Linked DNA regions of Homo sapiens: all the other regions are linked to region 1. Evidence: fine-mapped expression QTL. A gene starts in region 1. Each other region holds a variant in brackets. All regions are shown on one strand. Distances are from middle to middle.

Region 1 (6,686 bases):
TATCTTGAAGTGTTGCAGCTTGCACAATTCCTACAGGGGATAAAGATCTATCTGTTTTTCCCATCTGATCTTTGCACATTTCTTATAGATTTAAAAGGACTCACTAAAAAAGCCATGAGGAAAATAATTATGAATACAATCCACAGCAAAATGAAGTATGGGGCTGAAACCTAAAATAATGAAAAGTCACTGAGTTTTATGTAAAGCTTCACAGTTGAAGTACTCTATTCCCATTTAAAATTTCAAAAAATCTAGATTTTTTTCTTCTTACTCTGATTTTTCCTATCATATTAGGAATGTATGATATTTACCTCCAAAAAATCACAAACAAAAAGCCTTCAGAAAATATCATTTCCAAAAGGAGTATCTGCCAAACCTTACTGCACAGAAAATTATATATACACATTCTCTTTTTTTTAACACATTCTCAAATAACTATGGTAGGCGTTCCTGAGATCACCTCCTCCACCCCTCAAAAAAAGAACAGCAAATCTAACCACAATAAAGTATTAACCAAATTTTTTTAACGCCGCTATCACCAGCTAAGCAATTTATCACACAGCTCCTCAAAGTCTCAGACACACACAATGACATACCAACATGTCAAAACAGTTATTATAATTTGAAAAATTATACAACAGGAACATAAGAGTAGAAAAAAAAAACTTCCTCTGGAAAAACTCTAGTAGATTTGGGAGAGCACAAAAAACGAGATTAATTTTAGAAAAATAACATTTCTTCAAGTGTTTGGTGTTTATCTGATACTGGTTCATTTTCGTAAAGAGAAACTTTACCTAACAAGACTCACACCAGGGATCTGATCTATCCCCAAAGGCACTTTCTTAAAATGAGAAAGAACAAAGAAGGAAATCTCTCAGCATGTGCTTTCCATACTAGTTTCTTTGGACAGCATCAAGAGTGACAATATAGTCTGCACATGCTTTTCAGCTTTATTCTATGGTCCATGTATAACAACTGATTAGCTATCATTCAAAAGAACTCCTAACAAAATAAATATTACAAGGCAAAGATCACAGCAACATAGTGACTCTAAGAGAAAAATTATAGAAAACATGTCTTAAAGTTGTGTGCTTTTTTTTATTTCAAGGGTTAATTATCTCCAAATATTCAAATTCCTAAGGCTTTCTCATTTCAGTCAATAGTTTGAAACTGGGGAAAAATCAAAACCATCCATTGTAAATCTGCTCTCCCTTCAGTAAATTTGTAATTAGAAGTACATTTTAAAAGAATGACACTCAAAGCCAATACCTTAACATACGAATCTTGGAGTGTAAACATTGTGAAGTTATTAGGAGAAAAGCTCTTTCGGTGAGGATATTCCACAGGAAAAACTCTACAGAATCAAATCTGGCATTTGGTTGTTCTAGAAGTTGTCGTTTCATTATAACGGGGAAAAAATTAAATAATTTTTATTTATTATAAAAAGAAGACTCTCCCCAAAGATTTACAATTGTATATCCCCATCTCCTCTCTGACAGAGATGTCAGTTCTCTGGGTCGAGACATAACCAGCTGCTGGGTTCACACACACAGGAAGCCACAGAGAAGATCGCGTTCAGAGCCTCGAAATAATACGCGTTAGTTAAGAACTGCCTGCTACTAAACCAAAATTATTCAAGCGGAGCCCCATTTGTCACAATCCAGTCATAAGGGTTCCACCACCCCCTCCCCCAACTGCTTGTGTAGTGGTATATCTGCTACGGTAAAGAAGCCATCATCAGGTAAAGATTGGGGTGGGAGAAAAGCGGGGAAAAGGGGGCACCCTTTCATCTAATTTCGTGAGGCGTGAGTAATTGGTACTGTTAAGAGGAACGTTCTATTTATCGGGGGTTGGAGTAGCATGAGGGGAGAATTTCGTTCAAATCAACATGGCCAGCAAGATGTCCCTACAAACAAAAGGCAATGGGGGGATATAAACACGAACCATTCACCTCCATCAGCTACAGCATCGCCATCATGGTGTGTGCAGAGACCCCCAAAGGCTCCTCTCACCCTCCACACCAGCTAAGGCAAAAGAAGGGAGAGAGGTAGCTGCATCCCCCCCTCCCAACACTGCTTCCAAAGACACACTCTTCGAGGGGGTTTCTCCCCTCGGCTGCCCGGAATCAGAGAGAAAGAGTAACGTCCCGCTCACTACCTCTCAGCCGAACCCCAACGCCGGCCCGGGGCTCGCTAAACTTTACCAGAGCTTCTCCCCCAGATCCCCACCCTATCGCCCCGGGATCGCGCTTCCCACAAGCGGGGCACCCCAGGCGCTTCCTGACAAGCGAGCAGCCGGGGAAAGCCGAGTCCGGGGCGGGGGCTACTGGGATCCACGGAGGGGCGGGGCGGCCGAAGCCAAGTTCCCGGGGGTCTGAGAAGAGCGCCTGACAGGAGCCCGGGACTGCAAAGGAGGAAGAGGAAGCGGCCACGGGGAGCTTTCCCAATCCCCCCTACGAGAGCACCCTGCCCCCAGCCCCAGCTCCCCATGGGGGGCAGGGAGGCTAACTGGAAGGTGAAAAAGCCGAGCCCATGAGACAGCTGCAGCCCCTACCTCCGGACTCCCTATCTCTTCCCCCGCCACCCCCGCCAGAGGCGCCCACAACAATAACACGCCGGGGACGACCCGTCAGCGCCCCCGAGGCACCCGGGGCCCGCGGCCCGCCGCAGGCGGGCCCCCTCTGCTGAGACCGGGCGCGCCTCTCTCCCTACAACTCCAGGCCCGGGTGGAGTCAGGCCCGAGAGGCCCCCCAGGGTCGGACCCATCCCCCCTGGCAGCAGCGGCGCCGTCTCCGCGGCCGAATATTAGAAGTGAATTCGAGCTGCGCTTTACCTTTAGTTCCGCACTGTCCGCCATCTTGCGTCTGTCAGCGCAAGCGCAGTGAACTTCGCCGGGGGCCGCCGCTAGACCCGCCCCTCTAGCCGGCCTGGCCCCGCCCCGGCCCGCCCCTCCACCTTCCCAGCCCGCCTCTAGCCTCCGCCCCGCTCAGGGCGCTCGAAGCCCCGCCCCGGGCACGTACAGCTGCGAGACAGGCACGTTCCATTTAAATAATGGCGCCAAGCGGCGAGGTTTGACAGTTACTGCCCCCTCGGTCTCCCTGCCCCCCATCCTAGCTCGGCCAGCTCCTCCCGGGAAGGGCCGGAGCGAGAGGGATGCTGGCCTGAGCCCCATCTCTCTGCGGTCCGCGGAACGCTTCTGCATAGCTTCGACGCCTACGGTCACAGAAACAATGCTGTCCCCCAACCCCCAATAAGCAAGGCTTTTTCAGCACCTGCTACCTGCGAGGCTACCAGTGGGCTAAAAATAGAAATCCATTACATTTAAGGGGCCCTTAATGAAGCATTTCTATCATTATTGGCTCAGATCCTCTTGATAACGAGGGGAGGTAGGCAAGGAAGAGATAATTCCCATGGTATAGATTCAGAAATGAAAGCTCAGAGAGGAAAAGTGACTTGCACAAACAAGTATTTTAACGAGGTGGCGTAAGACAAAATTTTGAAGGTGTTCATTAACATTTTTGTTTAAAAAAGTATTTATTTAGTGACCATCTGCTTGCCTTGTGCTAACGGCTAAATATACATTTTGAAATCAAAGTCCGTGCCCTTCTGTAGTTCTCTAATGGGGAATCAGAGAAGTGAACGAACAAAGATACAATTGCAAATGTTAGTGAGTACCAGAAAGGAGCAAAAGGTCATTGAGAGAGAGAAAGGGTTTGGGAGATGTACTTAATTCTGGGAGGGTTTTATCCACTAAATTGACATTTAAGTAGACTTGATGGAAGGATTATTTCATTCCTTTTCGTCTCTACTGAAAGCCTTCTATATACCTCCTCCCCAACCCCCACTTTTACTAATCAACTTTGCCTCATAACTCATGGAAAAAATGAAAGATATCAGAAATAAACTCCCTTATCTTCTCACCATCAAAACCACCCTTATCTGCATAGTAACATTTGGGTTGCTATGAATGAAGTGTCCCTGCGCCTAGGAAGGCCAGTCCCTTTACCAGTGACCGGATTTTTTTCACGCACATTCCTAAGGATTTTACTCTTACAATTACCTACCCTCCAGCATCGTTAGTTTTTTCCCTCTCAATTGAATTGCTCCTATCAGCATATAAATATATTGAAATTTCTCCCATCTAAAATAAACTTCCTTTGACTCCAAAATCGCCTCTAGGAACTGCCCTATTTTTCTGCTATCTTCATAAATTCTTAGAAAGGTTTTTCAAGATCTCTCCAATAGTGCTTGTTCCTACCTCTCACTTCACATTCACTTCTCAGTCTACCCTGATCGAGCTTTGGCTTCCATCATCTGTATCACTTATCAAGATTACTAATGATCTTGTTTCCAAAGGCAATTGCCAATTCTCTATCCATATCTCAATTGACCTCTCTGTAGAATCGCGAATAATTGACATGGTTCCTTTGATTTGAAACACTTTTCCCCCTGAACTTACCTACACGTCACAGATAGTCCTGTTCCCTCACTGGGCCTCCTTTTTGATATGCTGGTTTCTCCTCTTTGGCTCAATCTTTAAATGTTGGACTGCTCCAGGGCTCGGTCCTTGCATTCTTCTCTATTTTATCACCAGGTGATCTCATCTAACTGGTTGACTTGAAGTCTATATGCTCATGACTTTGAAAATGCTCTCTAGCCTAAACCTCTCCATTGTCAAGAAACAAAAGTAAAACAAATTGAGATTCAAGATCTCATTGGCATTATTGCACTCCTAGAATTGGACAAAACTTCATTCCACAAAATAGAATAAATGTTGCAATGAATCAAGCAGAGGATGTTAACTTTAGAGACAGAAAATAGACTGAAGAAGGCAGAAACAACAAAAAGCAGATTGGTTATATCAAAGTCACTTTTCTTTAAGGTGGAGACGTGGAGACAGAACAGTAGAAAGAAAACTGATTGGTTAACATTGGGTTACTTCAGGTATTCTATTTTAAGGATTAAAACAGGAAATTTCATTATCATGCCTGTTAAAGATTGAAACTTCTGTTTGGAAAATTGGCTATCTCTCTTACCATTTTTTGGAAAACCAGATAACTCAGTTTTGTTTTGGTGAACATGGGTGACACCATTTTGATTTTTAGTCTGATCTGGAGGCCTGATGCAGGAATTTGGTTGAAAACAATGGCATCCCATGATTTTTATTTAACAACCTAGGTGAAATTGTGACTAAGACTGAGGGCATTAGCACTACCCTCATTTAACATCATTCTGTGTTTCCAGTCTCAACACATCATTTATAGATTACAGTGTCCTCATGATTTTGTATTTCTGTCATTGCAGCTGAAGAGAGACCATATGACATTCAACAATTGGCTGTATGCAAATATGTAAAACTTTTTGAGAGAACATAATTGAGAATTGTGACTATCAGGAGGACAATGCCAAGAGTTCGGAGTATGCTTCTTAGCTAGGGTTGCCATAAACCAAACCAACTAAAATCAAATAGATCAAAGAATGAGCCAGATGAGAAATCTACCTGTTTTCACCAAGTAGCCTGCTAACTTTTTGAAACTGAGTCTCTACAATACCAGATTATTTATGTACAACAAGAAGTGACAGCAACAGCACAGATTTCCCCGTTTGGTTAGTACGCAGCAATTCTATCATCTAGCATCTCAGAAATGGGTTAAATTAAAGCAAAGAGTGCTAACTCTACAAAAGAGGCCACTAGTAAAATTTGAACAAACAGTTGCATTAGGGATGTTGCTAAAGTTACCCACTAGGTGGAATAAAAGCTCTCTTGGGTCCTGTAAATGTTTGGGTTTGACCCTTTATCAACTTACCCACAAAAACTACTAATTGTGAAATTTTAACTACAGCATTATCCTGCCAAGTGGAAGAGGTGGGCATAAGCAAGAAAAAATTAAGAAGGGAAGGAGTCTTATCATGGTAGCGAGTCTTATTCTGACAGTCTTGGAAAACGCTGTCCACAACATGATGTCAGCAATTTCTCATCCTGGTTTGCAGTTTAAATGTCTCTGGCTGTGGCATCAGGTGTTCTGCTAAACTCTCTATGTGGCTCCCTCATCAAGCATGGGACTTGTCCCTTGAAATTTATATCGAGTTGTTCAGCTTAGCAGTTTTTGTTCATGGTTGGAGAATTGCAGTCAGATATTGAAGGCAACAAGAACTCAGGATCCAGGCTAGTCTATAGATAGATGATAAAAACTCAAAAACAATGAACAAAGCTGCAATCTAGTAACAGGTGTACTATGGTTTTCTTCAGAAACATAATTTTTCTCTCTACAGTCATTCCCATTTCTACCAAAGATAATCATGGTAAGACCAATTTATTTTTAAAATTAATTTAGTTTCAAACTTGACCTGATTATTTACATAAGTGCGGCAAGAATAACCACATAGGCTTCTTTTAAATTTATTTTGCTGGAAATTGTGACAACAAATCTGGACTTTTAAAAACCTCTTGATGTTAGGAAGTCAAACCAAGGCAGACATCAGACTTTGCCTGCAATATCTAATATCTTGAGGCTTCTGGGCCTGCCTGGAAGTGACTACTTTTATTCACTATAAAGCTGAGAACACTTGAAAATTGGCATTCTATGATTCCATGCACATTTTAAAATATGACATTGCTATATATATATATATTCATATATATATTCATATATATGAATATATATATGAATATATATATTCATATAT
Region 2 (5,000 bases), 83 kb after region 1:
AAATCAAGAAGACAAAAAAGTATAGAGTATCTAAAGAGCAAAACAGTATTAGTTTAAGTCACACTAGCAACTGTAGCAAATAAACTTTTAACTAAGAGTAGCTGAACACTTAGACAATCGAGGTTAATTTCTTTTTCACGTAAAGTTCAATGTTTGGTTGTGGGGCACGGAGGAAGGGTCTCTGCCAGGAATTCAAGCTGATAGAAACTCTGCCACCTTCAACATGTAGTTGCCAAGGTCACTCTGTGTGTTGAGATCTTGGCATTCATAGTGACAGACAGAAAGGAGAAACACACGTAAGCTGGGCCTGGAAGTGGCACACATAATTTCTGCTCATGCTCCATTGGCCAAAACTCAGTACAAGACCACATCTAATTGCAAAAAGTCCAGGAAATGTAGCCTAGTTGTGTGCCCAGGAGGAAGGGGAACAAGTTTGTTCATCAATTAGCTAGTCTTTAACACAGCAAAGAACAGACGACCTGTCAATGTAATGGATATATGTAGAACTTTGAATAGAAAATGTACATTCTTCACAAATACAAATGGAACATTTATAAAAATTGACTAAGTATTGACTAAGTATTTAACTGCACAGTAAGTTCCAAAAAAATTTTTTAAGTGATATAGCTGGGCACAGTCCCAGCTACTTAGGAGGAGGAGGTAGGATGATTGCTTGAGCCCAGGAGTTTGAGTCCAGCCTGAGCAACATAGCAAGACCCCATCTCAAAAAATAAGTAAGTAAGTAAAGTGAAATAATATAAAACATTTAATGATAAAATTTTATGTCAACAACAACAGGAAGATGGCTAGAAATTTGTATACACCGAGAAGTTTTAAAACACAGGTCTAAATAATTAATGAGTTGACAAAAAACTACAATAAAATTAGAATTAACTGAAGTACTACTTTAAGATGACGTTAAAGTAGTCTTCAGGGAAATATATAAACTTACTTGCACTTACTATAAAGCAAGAAAGACTAATGATGAATTAACTTAGCTTTTGCATTGGTTCCCTAGGGCTGCCATAACAAATTACCACACACTGTGTGGCTTAACACAATAGACATTTATTGTCTAATAGTTTTGGAGGCTAGAACTGAAATCAAAGTGTTGGTGACACCATGTTCTCACTGAAGGAGGTGGCTTCCTAGCCTCTTACTGTCTTCTGATGATTGCCAGCAATCCTTGGCTTATAGACACATCACTCCAATCTCTGCTTCAGTCATCACATGGCATTCTCCCTGTGTGTCTGTCTCAGGGTCCAAATTTCTCTTTTCTTATAAGAACACCAGTCATATTGGATTTAGGGCCCACCTTAATCCAGTATGTTGTGTTTGGCCATTGAGGTATTGGAGTTTTCTGTTACAGCACTGAGCCTACTAACAAGGTACATCATTAGATGTATTCTCATTAATGTCAAGAGCAAGATTAGAATACCCACTATTCCCCTTCTTCATCATACCCAACTTCATGCAATAAGATTACCTCCAAAATAGACATATAAATATTAGAAGAGAAGAAGACAAAGCAAAGCATTAATTATATACAGATGAGATTTGGTTGCCTTCTCTAGAAGACCTAAAAGAACCAATGAACAAACTGTCAGAATTAATAGTACCAATGTACCAAAATTAATTGCCTTTCTACTTACAAGTATAAGCTATGAGAAAATGTAATTGGAAAAAAACAATAGTAACAAAGACTATAAAGTCTTTAGGAAAAATTTTAGTAAAAGATCTTTATGAAGGTGATTTTAAACTTGACTAAAACACATTTTAAAAGACCCAATAAATCAACATGTCAGATTCTTGGATAGAAAGACGCTATATTCGAGATACATTTCTCAAAATCTAGGTATGAATTTGATGCAATAACAATCAAATTACTCAAAAGACTTTTCACAGACCTTCATAAATGAATTCGTATGGAAGAATACATGTACAGGAAGAACCAAGGCAATGAAACAGAAAAAGTGGGTAAATTGCCCATCAGCTGTTAAGATACATTATAAATCAATAGTCAAAACAGTGTAGTATTTGCATAAAAATAGAAAAGGAGATAAATGGATAAATGGAAAAGAGTAAAGGGTCAGGAAATAGATCTGCGTTTATATGGGGATTTGGTATATGATAGAGGTGGTATTCAAAATCAGTGGAAAAAAGACTATTCAATAATTGGTATTAAAGCAATTAACGACCCATATGCAAAGCAACAAAATTAGATTCCTATCACATACATACACCAAAATAAATCCAGATGGAGTCAATGTTTTAATGTTTAAAAAAAAGATAAGTAAATAGATACTTAAAATTATTAGTGAAAAACGTAGATCAAATCTTTTTGAACAAAAAACAAAAATCTATAAAGGAAAATACATAAATTTTGCCATATTAAGTATTTAAAATTCTGCATGTCAAAAGACATTGCAAACAAGATTAAAAAATAATCAGCAGACTGAGGAAAATGCTTGTGATAGATACAGAAAAAAAGATAGTGGCCTAAATATATAAAGCAACTCTATAAACTAATTTTTTAAATAGCCAGTAAACAATATGCTTAATCATACTAATAATCAGGAAAATCATACAAAAATAAATTATTTTCACTCAGTAGATTCTAAAAAATTTAAGTTTTTTTAAAAAAGTGAAGTCTTATAATCAAGCAAAGCAGTGTTATAAGCTAACAAGGATGCTCATTATACGCAGTAGCTTTAGAGGGCAATTTGGCAGTGTGGATTAAAAGTAAATAAATGCATATTCAGCAATTCTACTTCCGTGCATCTACCACCAGAGAAACACTAGCCCCTGTGCAGAAGAACATGCAAAGGTTATTCATTGTAGAATTTATCACAGTAGCAAAAAATTGGAACCAATGTATATGCTCATCAAGAACAAAATGGGTAGATACAAAGTGGCTTATACATAAGAT[C/T]GAATAATATAGGTGTCAAATGAGCAAAAAAGAAAAAAGCAAATTGCAGAGAAAACATTATACCATTGTGTAAAACACATATACAATATAATATATATATATACATTTATTATTACACTGTACATTTCCTGTGGGTCTACATAAATGAAATAGGTATAAATAAATGAAAAATGAGTGTAAATAAGTGGGAAAAAAATTAAATGGTCTGCAAAATTAATACATCAAAGAACCCAGGGCTGTGGGTGGTGATCAGACAGATCTTTAGCTTTAATATTCTAAGTTTAATATTAATTATTAAACAATTAAATGAAATTATTAAAAATTACAACATAATTAAAAATACAATTTACGCTGCACAAGAAAAAAATTAGAGAAAAAAGACTGAAAGGAAATGTACAACAATGTATAACAATGGTTGCCTCTGGGTGATGTGTTTATGGGTGATTTTCCTTTCTGCTTTTTTTTCCTTTCATTTTCTGTACTTTACACATTTTCTGAAATGGCCATGTGTTACTTTATAATTAGCCATGAAAAATGAAAAAGAAAAATAAAGAGCGTTTAAAAAACCCACTGTCAAATTCAGTCTTTAAAGAGCAGTGTGCTTACTTCCCTTCCCCCAAAGAGGCCCTGACATTTAGAAACAATATAAAACACTCTGAAGCACCATTTAATCCTATTACTCTTCTGGACCTCTTACAAACCTGGGGATGATCCCTTTGACTCTTTAAAATAAATCTCCCAAGGTCATGGGGTTCGTCAGTAACAGAGGGGGATGAAACTCCCAGGCCAGTGCTCCTCCCCTGCGCCATCTGGCACCTCAGAATTTCAGCAAAGATTTATTGCTTGAGCTAGCCAAAAAGCCAAATGCTCAAATGCATCTTCTTTCTAAGGGAATATTACTCCACTTAGGACCACTCTACTAACTTGCCACTGCCTCCTTTCTGGGCCTCAGTTTCCTCGTCTGTAAAATAAGGGGATTGTGTTGTCTCAGCAGGTCTGGAAATTCCAGGTTCCTAAAACATCCTGTGTGCCTTTTCTCTTCCCAGCTACTTCAAAGGATCCGCTTCTTCATGCTTGCTCTATGGTGATCACTGGGAGATCGTTTCCAATCCTGGTTCTGCAGCGAATTTATGTCCTGGGTGTCCCTGGGCAATGCAGTGCCTGTCTGGGGACCTCAGTTTTCCCATCTCTACAAGGAGGGTTTGGGCCCAGACCAGAGTTTTTCCACAATCTGGGAAGGTGAAGTGGGGTGACTTAGCTCCCTATAGGTCTGTTTCGCAAACTGAGGTTCTTGGTAAGGTTTTCTTTGAAACGAGAATCTTTAGCTACAAACCTGCTTGAAAACCACTGGGCAAGGAGACTTCGCAAGCTCTTTTCCAGGACTGACATTCTGTTTCTCCATGAGCAGCAGAACACTAGGTACCAGGGTAAAATAATGAAGATGACTCCCTTGGCTTGGGGCTTCCATCCTACTCCCTCTTGGGGGCTGAGCTGTTCAGTATTAAGATCTGAAATGCTCGGATCAGCTCAGCCCCCACTTCTTCCTCTCGCTCCCCGTCACCTAGGCAACCGGGCGGGGCCTGGGCGCGCGGTTCCTCCCTCCCCTTTCTCCCCACTCCAACGCCAGGCTGCATTCCCACCCTCTGCCTCCGCCTCTGCCCACAGCTTCTCTGCGTCTGGAGTCGCGAGTTCCACCAGTCGGGCTGCGTTTTGTGAACATGGAAACCAGATTTCAAGCGGGGGGGCCCCAACGCCCGAAAATGATCCTAGTTTGCATGCTAGATTTGCCTGGCTTCTTGACGGACGTGTTGCAGCCAAAGGGTCTGACCTTGCCAGGGCAACGTATGCAGAGCTTTGGAGGCCTGAGACGGGCTTGTTGGTGCTCAGGGGGCCAGGAACAGGCAGGGTGCTCTAATACCAGAGCATCCTAGAACGCCCGGGCAAACAGCCGTGAGAGGGGGACAGCGGGTCGTCCGAGGTGGGGGCTGGAAGCACGCATCTGAGTGGTTCTCTGCTCCACGTGGGGAGTCAGGAGCAAAGGGCCCTGGGGTATAATTTCCCACGGAGTTAT
Region 3 (8,248 bases), 70 kb after region 1:
GCCATGAGAAGAAACGAATGGTCTTCATGGCAGATATCACTGAGCTATGACAGTCTAATGCATTCACTCCCCTTTGGGGGAAGGCTTGAAGGGGATTTATAGTGAGCCTACCTTCTCCCCTGGATAGTGTTGGAGACACATGGCCAAATTCTTGCTCTCCGAGCCTTCTCACCCCAGCTGTCCAAACTCCGAGAGTTCTTACAACTCCCAGATTGGGTACAATGCAATTAATTTTCAATCAGAGTTCCTTAACTGAAATTATATTCCAGTTCTGCTTCCCAAGAATAATATCCAAAGCACTGTGAGTGGAATCCTGGGTCTGCTCAACCTTTGGTTACCTGACTAGAGTTGCTTCAGAGTAGCTGATGGCATCCATCATGTGCGGCTTTTTCTAGTTGGGCTCTCAGAACATCCTGGCTGGCCACCCCCTGCTCCCTGGCAACACACACACACACCCTACTCAGATCTATTCTCTGCTCTTCTCTGCCCTGCTCCATGCCACAAAGCCTGACCTCTGTGGATGCACCTCCTGGCCTCCCTTGACAGCTCATTTCTGGTTGGGTATGGCCAGAGGGGACATTAGCAGGAGACTGGGGACAGGAAGAGAGTGAGATCAAATCTTTTTCTCCCTCTCCGTCTCCCTGATGTCATGCCTGTCTTTGGCAGTATTTGCCACCCCCCATACCTACAGCTCCTCTTGGGTGGTTCCTTTCTTCCTGGTGCAGCTCATACTGGGCTCCAGTAACACTATTTACTCTCCTTGTTCCTTCAGATATAAGGGTAATAACAGCTTCCCTCCCCCCATCCCTCAGATGCTAGTCTCTGAGTGCCCTAACATCCACTGTTGGTGCCCTATTATCGGCTCATGTGTAAGTATCTTTTTCTTTCAAGTGTCTTCATTTGATCCATCTAGGGTGCATTCTGCTTCTTGCCATGACCTGACTGTCATAGAGGGTATCCTTAATCTCCAAGTCTTTTTAGGCACCCATAATAGCTCACCTTATCTTCACAAGAAAGGCTTTATGTTTCTCATGTGACAACATGTGTTAGGGTAAGAACAAAAGCAATTGACATTGACAGCTTTAGAAACCTTGGGTGAGTACAGTATGAAGTGTTTCAAGAAATGTCTTAGCAGGGCAACAGCACATAAAAAAGGAGGCAATTATGACCATCGGTGACCTTCTCAATCACAAACCAGGAAGGGTGAGTCTGTCCTGCCTTTAATCCCATCATATTTTACTTTATGAGAAAATAGAAATATCAGGCTTAGAAATTAAATTGCTTATCAAATTTTAACCTTCAATCATAGACATTAAAGTTATTAATTATTAAAATTTAAATCATGCATTAAAACTTAAATCATGCATTAAAAATTAAATCATGCATTTAAACATTTTACACAAATTAAATTTTACAAAAAGAACATTGGTTGAAATCAACAGAGGTGAATTTCTCTGGGCTTCCCCTTCCTTTTTTGTTTGGCAAAACAATTTTTATTATCCTTCTTACTAAAGGGTCTAAGATTCCATGGTCCCATTGAGAGTCACTCTGCCCATCAATGTATCAAAGAAACAGCCTTTCTTCAATTTATTTGAGCAACTAATGCTGTTGCATAGCTATCATGGAACCTACTACAGGGGGGAACTTCATCCCACACCTTGGGGGTTCACATCCCCAAAGCCCCCTCTAGCACCCCAAAGATGTCATCTTTCTTTTCCCCCTCAGCACTCAGAATTTAAACCACACAATATGGCATCTGACTATACCTATTTTGTTCTCTAATTTCTTCATGGGTGTCACTTCTCATATTTTCAATGAAATTATAAATTATTCTGGGATAGGCATACTGTCAAATGTCATGGTGTGCCTTTCACCATCCAGGACAAGGGCAGTTTCATTGATATTACATATCTATTCAGCAAACATTTATTGAATACCTACTATGTGCCAGACACAATGCTAGGCACTGGACATATAAAGATGATTCAGATAAAATCCAGATCTTCACAGAACTCAGAATCTGGAGAGGACAAGAGTTATTTATTTTGTTTTATTCTTAGTTCATGTCTTTTATTAACTCATACACAATTACTTGTCTTCTGGTTTGTTGAAGCAATAAGTCAGACAACATTTCCCACAATAATGTCTGTCAAAGTGACTGGCCTTAAAAATGTCACCACCACATTTATCTGAAGGGGACTCCCTACAAAGACAGCTAATTTTGCCATTCTCATCCACCTTATGGTATTTCAGGACAGCCAGCTTAACCTTCTTTCTCTTTGGTCTCCATGGGAGTTGCATAAGACTTCATTTTCTTTTCTTTTTTTTTTTTTTTTTTTTGAGAGGGAGTCTCGCTCTGTCGCCCAGGCTGGAGTGCAGTGGCCCATGATGTCAGCTCACTGCAAGCTCCACCTCCCGGGTTCATGCCATTCTCCTGCCTCAGCCTCCCGAATAGCTGGGACTACAGGCACCCACCACCACACTCAGCTAATCTGTTGTATTTTTAGTAGAGACGGGGTTTCACCGTGTTAGCCAGGATGATCTCGATCTCCTGACCTCGTGATCCGCCCGCCTCGGCCTCCCAAAGTGCTGGGATTACAGGCGTGAGCCACCGTGCCCGGCCAACAAGACTTCATTTTCTTAACACCATTGTGAAATCTCAACACAAGATGGAGAGTGCACTCTTTGCAAATGTGGTAGACAGACAAAGCATGTTAATCTCTGATATGGTTTGGCTGTGACCCCACCCAAATCTCATCTTGAACTGTAGTCTCGATAATCCCCACGTGTCATAGTAGGGACCCAGTGGGAGGTAACTGAATCATGGGGGTGGTTAACTTCATGCCGTTCTCATGATAGTGAACTCTCACGAGATCTGATGGTTTTTTAAGGGGCTTTTCCCACCCTTTGCTCTGTACTCCTTGCTGCGCCATTTGAAGAAGGACGTGTTTGCTTCCCCTTCTGCCATGATTGTAAGTTTCTTGGGGCCTCCCTAGCCCTGTGGAACTGTGAGTCAGTTAAACCTCTTTCATTTATAAATTACCCAGTCTCAGGTATGTCCTTACAGCAGCATGAGAACGGATGAATACAATCTCCCAGGTGCTTGCCAACAAAGATCAGCAAAGGCTGATCAGGAGGAATTCCTTCCTTCTCCTGATCTTGACCTTTGCATGTTTCATCATATCTGAGGGTTCAACCTCAAGAGTGGATGGTCTTCTCTGTAAAACTTTTTATGAAAATATGCATTTCGGTGATTGTTCCATGGCAGATGGCAACTCAAAAAGCAGCACAATGGTTTTGAGATAGGGTCTCGCTCTGTCACCCAGGCTGGAGTGCAGTGGTGTGATCACAGATCACTACAGCCCCTACCTCCCAGGCTCAAGTGATACTCCCACCTCAGCCTCCAGAGCAGCTGGGACCACAGGCATGTACCACCACACCTGGTTTATTTTTAAATGTTTTGTAAAGATGGGGATGATCTTGCTACGTTGCCCAGGCTAGCCTCGAACTCCTAGGCTCAAACAGTCCTCCCACCTTGGCCTTCCAAAATGCTGGGATTACAAGGCCTAAGCTACCTCCCCCAGCTAACAATACTTTTAAAATATAAAACTACAGTGCATACTGAGAAGTGCTCAAATGATGTTATGATCATGAATACAAGGGAGAGCAAAGAAAGAATGAAATTTGATTGAGATGTTGAAGAATGAGAAGGCTTTTCCAAGAAGGGCAGTGATGACGGGCACTCCAGTGATGGGGAATTGTAGGCAAAAAGGACTGTGTGTCTGCAGAATAGCAAGCAGTTGAGTATTTGGACAAAGGGGCTTGGAGGGGTAGAGAGGGCATGATAATGGGAGAGGAGGTGCTGCAGAGGCCTTTTGTGAACTCCTGGCACTGAAGTCCTAAGATGTGGGCCTGCATCCAAGTTTGCCTTTTCCCTATATGCCCTTGAGCACATCAACCTTTGGAAGCTACCATGTCCTTATCTCTAAAACAGGGACAATAATGCCTATTTCTTACTGCTGTCACTAGGATTGAAAAAGATAATTAACGGAAAAGCACCACGTTAATATCTTGCCATCCCACTTGCTGTCTAGGGGATATTAGGCAAGATGCTAAATCATTCTGAGCCTCAGTTTCTTCGTGGGACAATAATAATGATACCTACATAAAATTCTTTTAGCATATCATGGCAAGCTTTGCCCCTCAGTATAATTATAATGCATTCTTCTTTCTGATGAGAAGCATTATGGAAGAAATCGCATTTTTCTTTCTCCCTCCCTGGCTGCCAGGACTTTCAGAAGCAGGCTTGATGCCCAGTCCCAGAAAACATGGTACCTCTTCTGTAAGTATGTCTGCAACCTCCTCTTCCTGAACTGCATTTTTTTTTTTTTTTTTTTTTTTTTTTTTGAGATGGAGCCTCGCTCTGTTGCCCAGGCTGGAATTGGAGTGCAGTGGTGCGATCTTGGCTCACTGCAAGCTCCACCTCCCAGGTTTACGCCATTCTCCCACCTCAGACTCCCAAGTAGCTGGGACCACAGGCACCTGCCACCAC[G/T]CCTGGCTAATTTTGTTTTTGTATTTTTAGTAGAGGCGGGGTTTCACCATGGTAGCCAGGATGGTCTCGATCTCCTGACCTTGTGATCCGCCCACCTCGGCCTCCCAAAGTGCTGGGATTACAGGTGTGAGCCACTGTGCCCAGCCACATTCTTTATTTTATTATTCTTACTTCAAGTTTATCCTTCATTGCAAAGTTTTGATTCTTGATTCTTTTCTTCAAGCAACCTGCTTCTTTTCCATGCAAATATATAATCTTAGGAGATAGGAGTCCTAATTCTTGCAAAGTGTTCTTGTAAATTAAAGCAGTGTATTAGTCCATTCTCGTGCTGCTATAAAGGGATACCTGAAATTGGGTAATTCATAAAGAAAAGAGGTTTAATTGACTCATGGTTCCACAGGCTGTACAGAAAGCATGGCTTGGGAGGCCTCAGGAAACTTACAATGATAAGGGAAGGTGAAGGAGAAGCAGGCACATCTTACATGGCTGGAGCAGGAGAAAGAAAAAGACGGTAGAGATGCTACACACTTTTAAACAACCAGATCTTGGCCGGGCATGATGACTCATGCCTCTAATTGCAGCACTTTGGGATCACTTGAGGCCAGGAGTTCGAGACCAACCTGGCCAACATGGCAAGACCCCATCTCTTCTGAAAACACAAAAATTAGCTGGGTGTGGTGGCGCACGCCTGTAATCCAGCTACTTGGGAAGCTGAGGCATGAGAATCACTTGAACCCGGGAGGTGGATGTTGCAGTGAGCCAAGATCGTGCCACTGCACTCCAGCCTGGGCGACAGAGTGAGACCCTGTGTCAAATAAACAAACAAACAACAACAACAAAAAACAGATCTTATAACTCACTATCACAAGAACAGCACCAAATGGGAAACCCACCCCCATGGTCCAGTCACACCTCCTACCAGGCCCCACCTCCAACACTGGGGATTATAATTTGGCGTGAGATTTAGGTAGGGACACAGACTCAAACCATATCAAGCACCTTTATTTAATCAAGCTCTTCTTGCTAGAAATGATTTCCAATCCTCACATTTAGACAGGAGAGAGAGAGAGAGGGAACTGGGGAAATAAAAATAAAGATAAATACCCTTACAGGTATCAAGACTCAAAATTATATTAGTGCAGCATTAAATACCACTTGGGCCTTTTAACTTATTCATTATTTAATTTTTAATCATAAAATTATATGCATATCCTCCTTAAAAAATTGAATGTTGATAAAACTAAAGTTTTTTTGGAGCCCCTAACCTCAGTTTCCTCCCCACCTCCCCAAAGGAGACCATTATTATTAGTTAGGTGTGGAAACTTCTCTGTCCTTTCTTATGCATTTACATTTTTTTCCATAGAAAATGAACTCATCTTTACATTTTGACAGTTAATCTTCTGGGCTGTGCCTGAGGGTTGCCTTTCATTCATGATAACTTTTTAAGACAGGCCACATGTATATAAGTGTATGTAAATAAAATAACTTATGAAATCTAAAAGGGGAAAGGTTTCACATGAAATATATCTTTATGGAAGCTCCATAGCCTTCTAGAAAACAGAGAGCACATGTCAGCCCTGGTATCTCCCAGCTACTTTCTCTTTTCTGAATACTGAGCCTTCAGGGGCTGCCAGGGCAGTTGACACACACTCTGTGCTAGAAGGGTGAATGTGTAAGAAGGAAAGACCCTTGCATTGGAGGTCACCCCCAAGTCCCATTCTACAGATGGGTAGACCAAAGCCTAGAGGGGAGGCAATGAACTTCCAAGGTCACACAGCTGGGTAGAGGCCGAGCTGGGGTAGAAACCCGGCACCTTCCTGATTCCCAGTCCTGTGCCCATTCTACACTCACATGCCCAGTTCCTGCTTTCATTTTGGGAACTTGCCCATGGACCAACCTCTGTGCAGTCACCGAGGGGTGCTCATTTAACATTTACCCATTTGGTACACACAAGGCACACATTGCAGATAATGTGGGAAAACTGTGAAATTGAAGGACACTGTATAGATGTGTTCATTCTCTCCTTTATCAGAAGATTTACAGTTTGCCTTTTCTATGCTAGGAGCTGAGGTATGTAACATGGGGATACAGAGCTGCATCAGATCAGGTCCTGCCCTCTAGGAGTTTAGAACTAATTGAGGACACAAGACAAGTACAGCAACAGCCACAATGCCAAGTTTAAAGTGCCAAGCCCATTGGAGAGGTGGAGCGTGCAGAAAGAGACAGCCTTGCATCTAAGAGTGGGGGATCAGAGAAGGCTTCCTGGAGGAGGTGGCATCTGAGCAGCCCTTGAAGGATGATTAGGTTAGATGAGAGGTAATAAGATAAGGGAATTCCAGGCACAGCAAGGGGCTGAGCAAGAAAAGCAAGGAGGGTTTCAGAGAAAAGGTGGAGCTCAGGTTGGTAGGTAAGGTGAGAATGCTTGTAAAGGTGCTGAAGCCAAGCTTAGCCCCCTTGCATTGCAATCCTGAGGCATGTGTCTTCTTGCCTTCACTACAGTATATGCCCCAGAGGAAAGACAGCTGGCTTTATAGCTGTAAATCTTCTTGATGCCTGGAAACGTCATGCATATATTATATTATCGTGGACTATTTATAATTCCATTATAATTATAATATATATGAGAATGTACACATTAGATGTATATCTATATACAATATATTATATATGCATATAATATAAGGAAGAGAGATGGGAGGAAGAAAAGAGGGGAGTAGGTAAACAAGCAGGCAAAGAAATTACCTCCTTCTGTCACCCACTCTTTATCCTTCCCTGGGGACATTGTGTTTTCTCATTCTAGGAGTCTAAATAAATTGTCGATTTAATCTTGTGCTGTAATATGGATATGTCACAAGTGATTTGACTGCATGTTCTAGTATGATAATCACCATGTATTACTTCTTAGAAGTTACAAACAGCTTTGCTGTTCCCAACCCTGAGAGGAATATGTGACTGTCACAAATCCCCTCAGGAACCAGGAGCAGACACTTACAAAATCCACTACCTTAAGAGAAAAAAAATCACCCCCTCTAGGGATAAAGGAAATGCCAATTAAAACCACATGAAATATAATTTCCCTTTTCCTCCTCAAATTAGCAAAACTTTTAAATGAAATGAATGAGAATATGCACGAACATGATTGAGTTATTCCAATTCACATTAATCAAGTATGTATTAAGGATTTTTTTTTTTTTTTTTTTTTTGAGACAAATCTCACTCTGTCACCCAGGCTTGAATGCAGTGGTGTGATGACAGCTCACTGCAGCCTCAACCTCCTGGGCTCAACCAGTCCGACTACCTCAGCCTCCTGAGTAGCTGGGACCACAGGCATACACCACCAAACCTGGCTAGTTTTTGTATTTTTTGTGGAGGTGAGGTGTCATCATGTTGCCCAGGCCTGTCTCGGATTCCTGGGCTTAAGCAATCCTCCCTCCTAGGCCTCCCAATGTGTTAGGATTACAGGTGTGAGCCACCACACCTGGCCCAAGAATCTTAAAATGTTCATACCCCTAGGCAGTAGTTAACATTTCTATGGATTTATTCAAAGGAAGAAAATCTGAAATGTAGACAAAGTATTAAATATGAGTGTTCATTTCAGGATTACTTGTCATAGAGACAAATGAGAAATAATAGAAATGGCAAAATGAAGGTCATAATTAAGCAATTTATAATGTACCCAGCCAGTGGAGTCTTAGG
Region 4 (7,915 bases), 190 kb before region 1:
TTGAGTGCATAGATACTTATAATTGTTATATCCTCTTGCTAAACTGACCCCTTTATCATTATATATTGATCTTCTTTGTCACTTTTTACAGTCTTTGACTTGTAGTCTATTTTATGTAATATAAGTATAGCTAATCTTGTTCTTTTTTGGTTTCCACTTGCATGGAATGTCTTTTTCCATCTCTTCACTTTCAGTCTATGTGTGTCTCTATTGGTAAGTTGGGTTTCTTATTCTTCATTGTGTTCATGTGATAATAACATATTAGTTAATATCACCCAGCATATAGTTGGGCCTTGTTTATCCATTCAGCCACTGTCTGTCTCTTAATTAGAGAATTGACTGAATTCTCCAATTAAACTTAATAATAACATTGAATAACCCATGTACATTCAGTGTATTATTGATAAGTAAGGACTTACTACTGCCATTTTGTTGCTTATTTTCTGGTTGTTGTTTTTTGTTTTGTTTTGTTTTGTTTGAGACAGGGTTTCACTGTGTCACCCAGGCTGGAGTACAGTGGTGCAATCATGGCTCACTGCAACCTCAACTTCCCTCGACTCAGGTGATCCTCCCACCTCAGCCACCCAAGTAGCTGGGACTACAGGAATGTGCTACCACACCCAACTAATTTTTATACTTTTTTTGTAGAGATGAGGTTTCAACATGTTGCCCAGGCTCATCTCAAGCTCCTGGGTTCAAGCAACCTGCCAGCCTCAGCCTCCCAAAATGCTGGGATGACAGTCATGAGCCACCACGCCTGGCCACCTTTTATTTTTATTGTATCTGTTATAGGTTTTAACATTATGGTTACCATGGTGCTTACAAAAAAACCGATAACTTATTTTAAAGAGATGATAACTTACCTTAGATCACAAAAAAGAGCAGAAATAAAGCAAAACCAAAAAAAAAAACCTCTGCACTTTAACTCCATCTCCCCACATTTTGACTATTTGTTGTCTCAATTCACATATTTTTATATTGCCTCTCTCTCTCTTTTTTTTTTTTTTTTTTGTCAGAGTCTTGCTCTGTCATCCAAGCTGGAGTGCAATGGTACAATAGCTCCTTGCAACCCAGTGATTCTCCTGCCTCAGCGTCCCAAGTAGGTGGGATTATAGGTGTGCACCATCACACCTGGCTGATTTTTATATTTTTAGTAGAGACAGCGTTTCACCATGTTGGTCAGGCTGGACTCGAACTCCTGACCTCAAGTGATCCACCCACCTTGGCCTCCGAAAGTGCTGGCATGAACCACTGTGCCTGGCCGCTATTGCCTGTCTCTTAACAGGTTGCTGTAGCTGCTACTGTTTTTGATAGATTTCTCTTCTAGGCTTTATATTAGAGTTATGAGTGAATTTTACATCTTAATTAGAGTATTGGAGTATTCTGGGGTTGTCTTTGTTCTTAATTTTACCAGTAGGTTTTATGCTTTCAAATGTTTTCTTTTGGCACATTAGTGTTTTTTTCTTTCAGATTGAAGAACTCCATTTAGCATTTCTTTTAAGACGGGTCTGGGGATGGTGAATTCTCTTAGCTTTTGTTTGTCAGAGAAAGACTATCTTTCCTTCATATTTAAAGGATGGCTTTGTTGGATATAGTATTCTTGGATGGCAGTTTTTTTTTTCTTTCAGCACTTTGAAAATGCTGTCCCATTCCTTCCTGGCTTTATGGTTTCTGTTGAAGTCTTGTTGCCAGATGAACTGGAATCCCCTTATGTGTTATTTGCTTATTTTATATTGCTGCTTTTAGGATCCTTTCTGTGTCCTTGACTTTTGAGAGTTTGATTATTATATGCCTTAGGGTAGTCTTACCTGGGCGAAAACTGCTTGGTGTTCTCTGATCTTTCTGTCCTTGGATATTTATAACTTTCTTGAGCTTTGGAAAGTTTTCTGTTATTATTATTATTATTATTTTGCATTAGTGCATCTTTAATGTTAAAGCTAGTTTTTTTTTTGTTTGTTTTTTGTTTTTTTGATCTTTTTGAGATGGAGTCTCCCTCTGTCACCCAGGCTGGAGTACAGTGGCCCTATCTCAACTCACTGCAAAGTCCGCCTCTCGGGTTCACTCCATTCTCCTGCCTCAGCCTCCCGAGTAGCTGGGACTATAGGCGCCCGCCACCAGGCCCGGCTAATTTTTTTTGTATTTTTAGTAGAGACGGGGTTTCACTGTGTTAGCTAGGATGGTCTCGATCTCCTGACCTTGTGATCCGCCCACCTCAGCCTCCCAAAGTGCTGGGATTACAGGCGTGAGCCACCATGCCCATCCTTTTTTTTGTGTTTTTTTTTTTTTTTTGAGATAGAGTCTTGCTCTATCACCCAGGATGGAGTGCAGTGGCGCAATATCGGCTCACTGCAACCTCTGCCTCCTGGGTTCAAGCGATACTCCTGCCTCAGCCTCCTGAGTAGCTGGGATTACAGGTGCATGCCACCATGCCTGGCTAATTTTTGTACTTTTAGTAGAGATGCGGTTTCACCATGTTGGCCAGGCTGGTGTCGAACTCTTGACCTCAGGTGATCCACCCACCTTGGCCTCCCAAAGCACTAGAATTACAGGCATGAGCCACCGCACCCAGCCAAAGCTAGTTTTTTAAATAAAATTTTATATCTATCCAGTCTTAATTAGTTTGACCATAAGGTAAGATTTTCATGAACTTTTTAGAACCCTTTACAATTTTCCATCAAACAGCAGATTAATTTTCTAAGAAAACTCTGTTATTCGGAAAAGTAGGCCGAGATTCTGGCCCCATATCAGTATGATTTCAGTGTTTTAACCTAAGGAAAAAAGCTAAATAATTCCTTTTAAATCTTAGCCAACTTGTTTATACTCACAGAATTTTAAAAGGGTTTTACAAACCCTTTTCACTTTGCTTAAACCTTCAGTTTTGTTCCATTACTCTTTTAGGTTAGGACAATGTTTAAAACCCTCTGAACTAGACAAAATTACATTCCCTTTAACAAAAGCCGTATTTCTGTGACTTCTTACAGTCTTTTACGAAAAGCACATTCCCCATACACCTTGTATATAAAACTGTTTCTGCAGTCGTCTCAACTACATATTACAATGTTAACGCTTAGCAACTTTTATTTTTAGTGAAAAACCTGGTAAGTAAGCAATTTCAATTATGTACTGGGGTGGAGCTTAGGACATTAGACAGAAATGAAGATAAGGTCTGACTCTTAGCATAGCTGGTGGGCATGGCTCTCCACATGTCCCCAGGCCTTACCTATCATCTAATGCTCCAAAGTAGGTAAATCAAACCATTTTCAAAAGTCAAAGAAACAGTTTGACCTTAAAGCATTTAGCAAGTCTGATATCTGACCTTAATTTAAACCAAATGTCTACACTTTCAAGACATTTTATTTTACCAATAATCTTTAAAACTGTCTTTATTTCCAAAAGGTTACTAAAGTCACGTGAACAAAAAGGCATTAGTTTCTATTTTTCTGACAAAATATTTTATTTAAGCACTTATTTTTCTTTTCCTTATTTATTTATTTATTTATTTTGAGATGGAGTCTCCTTATTATTTATTTAAGTAAGTTCTGTACCCCTTGTTCTTGCTCAACTCCCTCTTGAACACCAATAATTATTAGATTTGATCTTTTGAGGCAATTTCCCATATCTTGTCGGCAATCTTCATTCCTTTGTATTCTTTTTTTCTTTTTTCTCCTCTATGTAATTTCAAATAGCCTATCTTTGAGATTATGGATTCTTTCCTCTGCTTGATCCATTCTGCTGTTGAGAGTCTCTAATGAATTTTTTGATTTAGCAAATGTATTTCTCAGTTCCAAGATTTGATTTTTAAAAATTTCAATCTTTGTTAAATTTAATAAATTCCGAATTGATTTTCTGTATTATCTTGTAGATCACTGAGTTTCCTTAAAACTGCTATTTTGAATTCTTGGTCAGAGAGCTCACATATTGCCATCTTCTTAGGGCCATCACTGGTTCCATGCTTTGTCTGTTTGGGGTGCCCATGGTTTCCTGTTTCCTGTTATTTCTTGTGGATATACATCTACATCTTTGCATTGAAGGATTATTTATTTATTCTAGTCTTCTCTGTGTGGCCTGTTTTGCTTTTTATTGGGTATGTTTGCTTATAGAGTCTTTGTAATATACTGCTGAATTTCTTATTTGTTTGTTTATTTTCCACTAGGTCACTACCTCCTTTTTGGCACTAGATGATTTCTTAAGCCCAGGTTTGCCTCGGCTCTAATAAACAATTGGAACACTGAAGTTCCAAATGGGGGAGGTCCCAGAGCAGATATCCTGGCAGTATGGATAGGCTGGCTGGGGATTAGTGCCCAGGAGACCTGTGGAATGCAGCTGCTACAGTGTGGTGCTGCTAACAGCCACTCTGATTTGGTGTCTTCTTTGGCCGAGTTACAGAACCATGTTTCTAGGGCTAGGGATAGTATCCCCACCTCCCTCCTTGGTCTCTCAGTGTCCTCAGAGATATTTCTTCCTTCAGGCAATCATGATGCTTCCCATGGGTTGAGGCAGAGGCAAGGTCTCCTGCCAGGAAACCCACAATGGTGGAAAAGCTAGTCGTCCACCTCAATCTCACTTTTTCCAGTGCAGAAATCGTTGAGTCGGGAAATTTCCCACACACTTGGTGCTGGGCAGATTATAGGGAGGGGAGTCATGGATGTAGAAATCCATTTATCTTACTGACTGCTCAGAGCTTTTTCACTTCTCTATGACTCCAGGAACTGCCTCATCCTCATATTTGGGTTCTGGAATATTGCTGGCATAGTGCTGATCATCTCAGCACTGTGTATTTGTTTTTGGTTTTCTGTGGGAAGGAATGTAGCCAGCTTGCTTCTACACCACCAGTTTTGGACTGGAAGTCTCCAGGCTTTCTTGATGCAGCTTTGATAAGTTATATGTTTTTAGAAATGTTTCCCTTTCTAATAAATTTTGAAATTTACTAGCATAATGTTATTTATGGCATGTTTATCTTTTTCATCTCTTCCATATTTGCAGCTTTCTTCTGTTCTTCATTCATATTCTTGCTTATTTGTGAATGCTACTGTGTTTTTTT[T/G]TTTGTTTTTTTTTTTTGGGAGATGGAGGCTCCTTCTGTCGCCCAGGCTGGAGTGCAGTGGTGCGATCTCGGCTCACTGCAACCTCCACCTCCAGGGTTCAAGCGATTCTCCTGTCTCAGCCTCCTGAGTAGCTGGGATTACAGGCACCCACCGCCACGCCCAGCTAATTTTTGTATTTTTAGTAGAGACAGGGTTTCACCACGTTGGCCAGGGTGGTCTCGAACTCCCAACCTCAAGTGATCCGCCTCTCTCGGCCTCCCAAAGTGCTGGGATTACAGCCGTGAGCCACCGCACCCGGCCCTGTCCCCTTTTTTTTTTAAAGGAATCTTGCCCAACATTTATCTATTTTATCTGGCCCTCCCCTGGCTTGTTATTTTATTTTATGTATATATTTATTTATTTAGACAGAGTCTCGCTCTGTTGCCCACGCTGCAGTGCAGTGGCACGATCTCAGCTCAGGGCAACCTCTGCTTCCTGGGTTCAAGCAATCCTTCTGCCTCAGCTTCCCAAATAGCTGGGATTACAAGCATGTGCCACCATGCCCAGATAATTTTTTTTGTATTTTTAGTAGAGACAGAGTTTCACCATGTTGGCCAGGCTGGTCTCAAACTCCTGACCTCAAGTGATCCACCTGCCTTAGCCTCCCAAAGTGCTGAGATTACAGGCGTGAGCCACTGCGCCTGGCCTGGCCTTGGCTTGTTGATCATCTCTATTGCATGTTTGTTTTCTGCTTCATTAATTTTTCCTTTATATTTATTATCTCTTTCCTTATGCTTTCTTTGGGTTTATTCTATTGGGAGTTTTTTTCTTCTTACAGTGAAGCCTAGCTTATTAATTTTCAGTCTTTTTTCTTTTCTAATGAAAGCAGCTAAAGCTATAAATTTCCCTGAATTACTATTTTTCCTGCATCCATAAGTCCTGATAAGTGTAATTTTTATCATTGATTCTGTTCAACTTTTTATTTCTTTTATGATTCCTTACTTGACTTACAAGTTATTTAGAAGTATACTTCCTAATTTCCAAAACCTAGTGGATGTGTCACTTCTTTTTCTTTTATGCACTTCTAATTTGGTTGCTTAAGTTAAATCTATGATTGTGGATTATAAAATGTGGTTTATGTAAATCAGATTCTTGAAATTTGTTGAGGCTGGTTTTATGGCCTTTTATATGGTCAATTTTTAAAAATATTCCAAGTGTCCTTGAAAAGAATGCCTGTTCCTTGATTGTTGAATGCAAGGTAATTTATTCACTAAATTCACTAAATTAAGCTAGTGAATTGTGTTATTCAAATCTTTCTTGACTCATCAATAATTGGGAGCATTGTATTGAAATACCCCACTATGTCTGTGGATTAGTCAATTTCATTTCATAATTCTATAAATTTTTATTTTATATATTTGGATGCTATTTTAGTAGGTACCCACAACTTTAGAACTATTACATCTTCCTGATAAATAAAACCTTTTATCATTGTATAAAGTCCTTATTTATCTCTTATAGTCTATTTTGTCAAATGACAATATAGTTACACCAACTTTCTTTTAACTTCAGGTTGGCACAAAAGTAATAGCAAAAACCACAGTTTCTTTTTCACCAACCTAACAGTATTGCCTGTTATATCTTTTTTCATCATTTTACTTTCATCTTTTCTGTGTCCTTTTATTTTAGGTATGTCTATTTTTTTTTTAATTTAGGTCTAAGAATGTGTCTTTTAGTTTATTGTTTAGTCCATTTATACTTATTGTGATTACTGATATATTTAGATTTTTACCATACCCTTTTTTGGCTTTCCATTTGTTTTCCTTTTTTAAACTTATTTTTTTCCTTTTTCTTCTGCATTGGGTTTTTGTTTTCTTATTCTATTTTACTTTTTACTGGTATGGAAGTTACACATTTTCTGTTTTTAGTGATTACCCTTGAAATTTTACCATGCACATTTAACAACATCTAAAGTGAACAAATACTTGAACCTTCTCTAAGAAGAATACAAAGAACTTAGAATAGTCTAACTCTCCCCACCAACCTCGGGCCTTCTTCCCCCATCTATAAATATTATTGTCCAGTATTTGTTTCTGTCCTTTTTTAACCCCACAAATTATACACCATCATCACCTTTCATTATAAGTTTTTGCAGACAATTTTTGGAATTATTTACATACTTAATAATTGATTTGCTCATCATTCTTTCTTGCATTGCAATGATAAGTTATATATTTTTAGAAATGTTTCCCTTCTTCTGCGATCATTTTCCTTCCTCCTAAAGTATATCTTCCAGAAATTGTTTTAGTTAAGGCCTGTTAGTGGTAAAATCTCTCGGTTTTATTCTGAAATGTTCCTATTTCACCTTCATGTTTCTATTTTACATGCATTTTTGAAAGACAGTTTTGCTGGCACACAATTCTGGGTTAACTTTCTCTTAACACTTTGAAGATATTTTTCTGTCTTCTAAATTCACTGTTGCTGCCACCATATAGTTTTTGTTTCTTTGTAAACAAGGTTTCTTTTCTCTCTGGCTACTTTTAAGATCTTTGCTTTTGGAGCTTTGTGGTTTCTCTACACCATGTCCAGATGTGGGTTTCTTTCTTTTTCTTTTTTTTTTTGAGACAGAGTCTCACTCTGTCGCCAGCTGGAGTGCAGTGGCGCGATCTGGACTCACTGCAACCTCTGACTCCCTGATTCAAGTGACTCTCCTGCCTCAGCCTCCCGAGTAGCTGGGATTACAGGCACGTGCCACCACACCCAGCTAATTTTTGTATTTTTAGTGGAGATAGGGTTTCACCATGTTGCCCAGGATGGTCTCAATCTCCTGACCTCGTGATCTGCTTGCCTTGGCCTCCCAAAGTGCTGGGATTACAGGCGTGACCCACTTCTTT

Alleles and levels. Alleles are on the strand shown, and positions count from the first base shown. SD is a standard deviation of normalised expression in the study named. Not every link is listed here.
With allele T in place of C in region 2, the expression in tibial artery of the gene that starts at base 2,868 in region 1 is lower (small effect, 0.32 SD a copy in GTEx).
With allele G in place of T in region 3, the expression in uterus of the gene that starts at base 2,868 in region 1 is lower (moderate effect, 0.62 SD a copy in GTEx).

The links. PIP is the estimated chance that this variant, and not a neighbour inherited with it, causes the effect. A credible set is the group of variants that fine-mapping cannot tell apart.
Region 2: its variant is the best candidate, but not a certain one, in a credible set for the expression of PIAS1 in tibial artery (GTEx, PIP 0.71).
Region 3: its variant is the best candidate, but not a certain one, in a credible set for the expression of PIAS1 in uterus (GTEx, PIP 0.57).
Region 4: its variant is the best candidate, but not a certain one, in a credible set for the expression of PIAS1 in whole blood (INTERVAL, PIP 0.88).

The regions. Positions count from the first base shown.
Region 1 is chr15:68,050,497-68,057,182 of GRCh38, reverse strand. It overlaps PIAS1 (protein inhibitor of activated STAT 1), which reads right to left and starts at 2,868. Exons shown (of 14, transcript NM_016166.3): 1 at 2,833-2,868. The coding sequence starts at 2,856. RefSeq lists a silencer at 2,570-3,069.
Region 2 is chr15:67,967,850-67,972,849 of GRCh38, reverse strand. No RefSeq gene overlaps it. Among named protein-coding and RNA genes, the nearest start is that of PIAS1, 84 kb to the left of the region's middle. RefSeq lists an enhancer at 3,441-4,357. The variant C/T (reference allele first, on the strand shown) is at 2,930.
Region 3 is chr15:67,980,084-67,988,331 of GRCh38, reverse strand. No RefSeq gene overlaps it. Among named protein-coding and RNA genes, the nearest start is that of PIAS1, 70 kb to the left of the region's middle. The variant G/T (reference allele first, on the strand shown) is at 4,553.
Region 4 is chr15:68,238,129-68,246,043 of GRCh38, reverse strand. It overlaps a transcript of CLN6 not described here. Among named protein-coding and RNA genes, the nearest start is that of CLN6, 12 kb to the right of the region's middle. The variant T/G (reference allele first, on the strand shown) is at 5,042.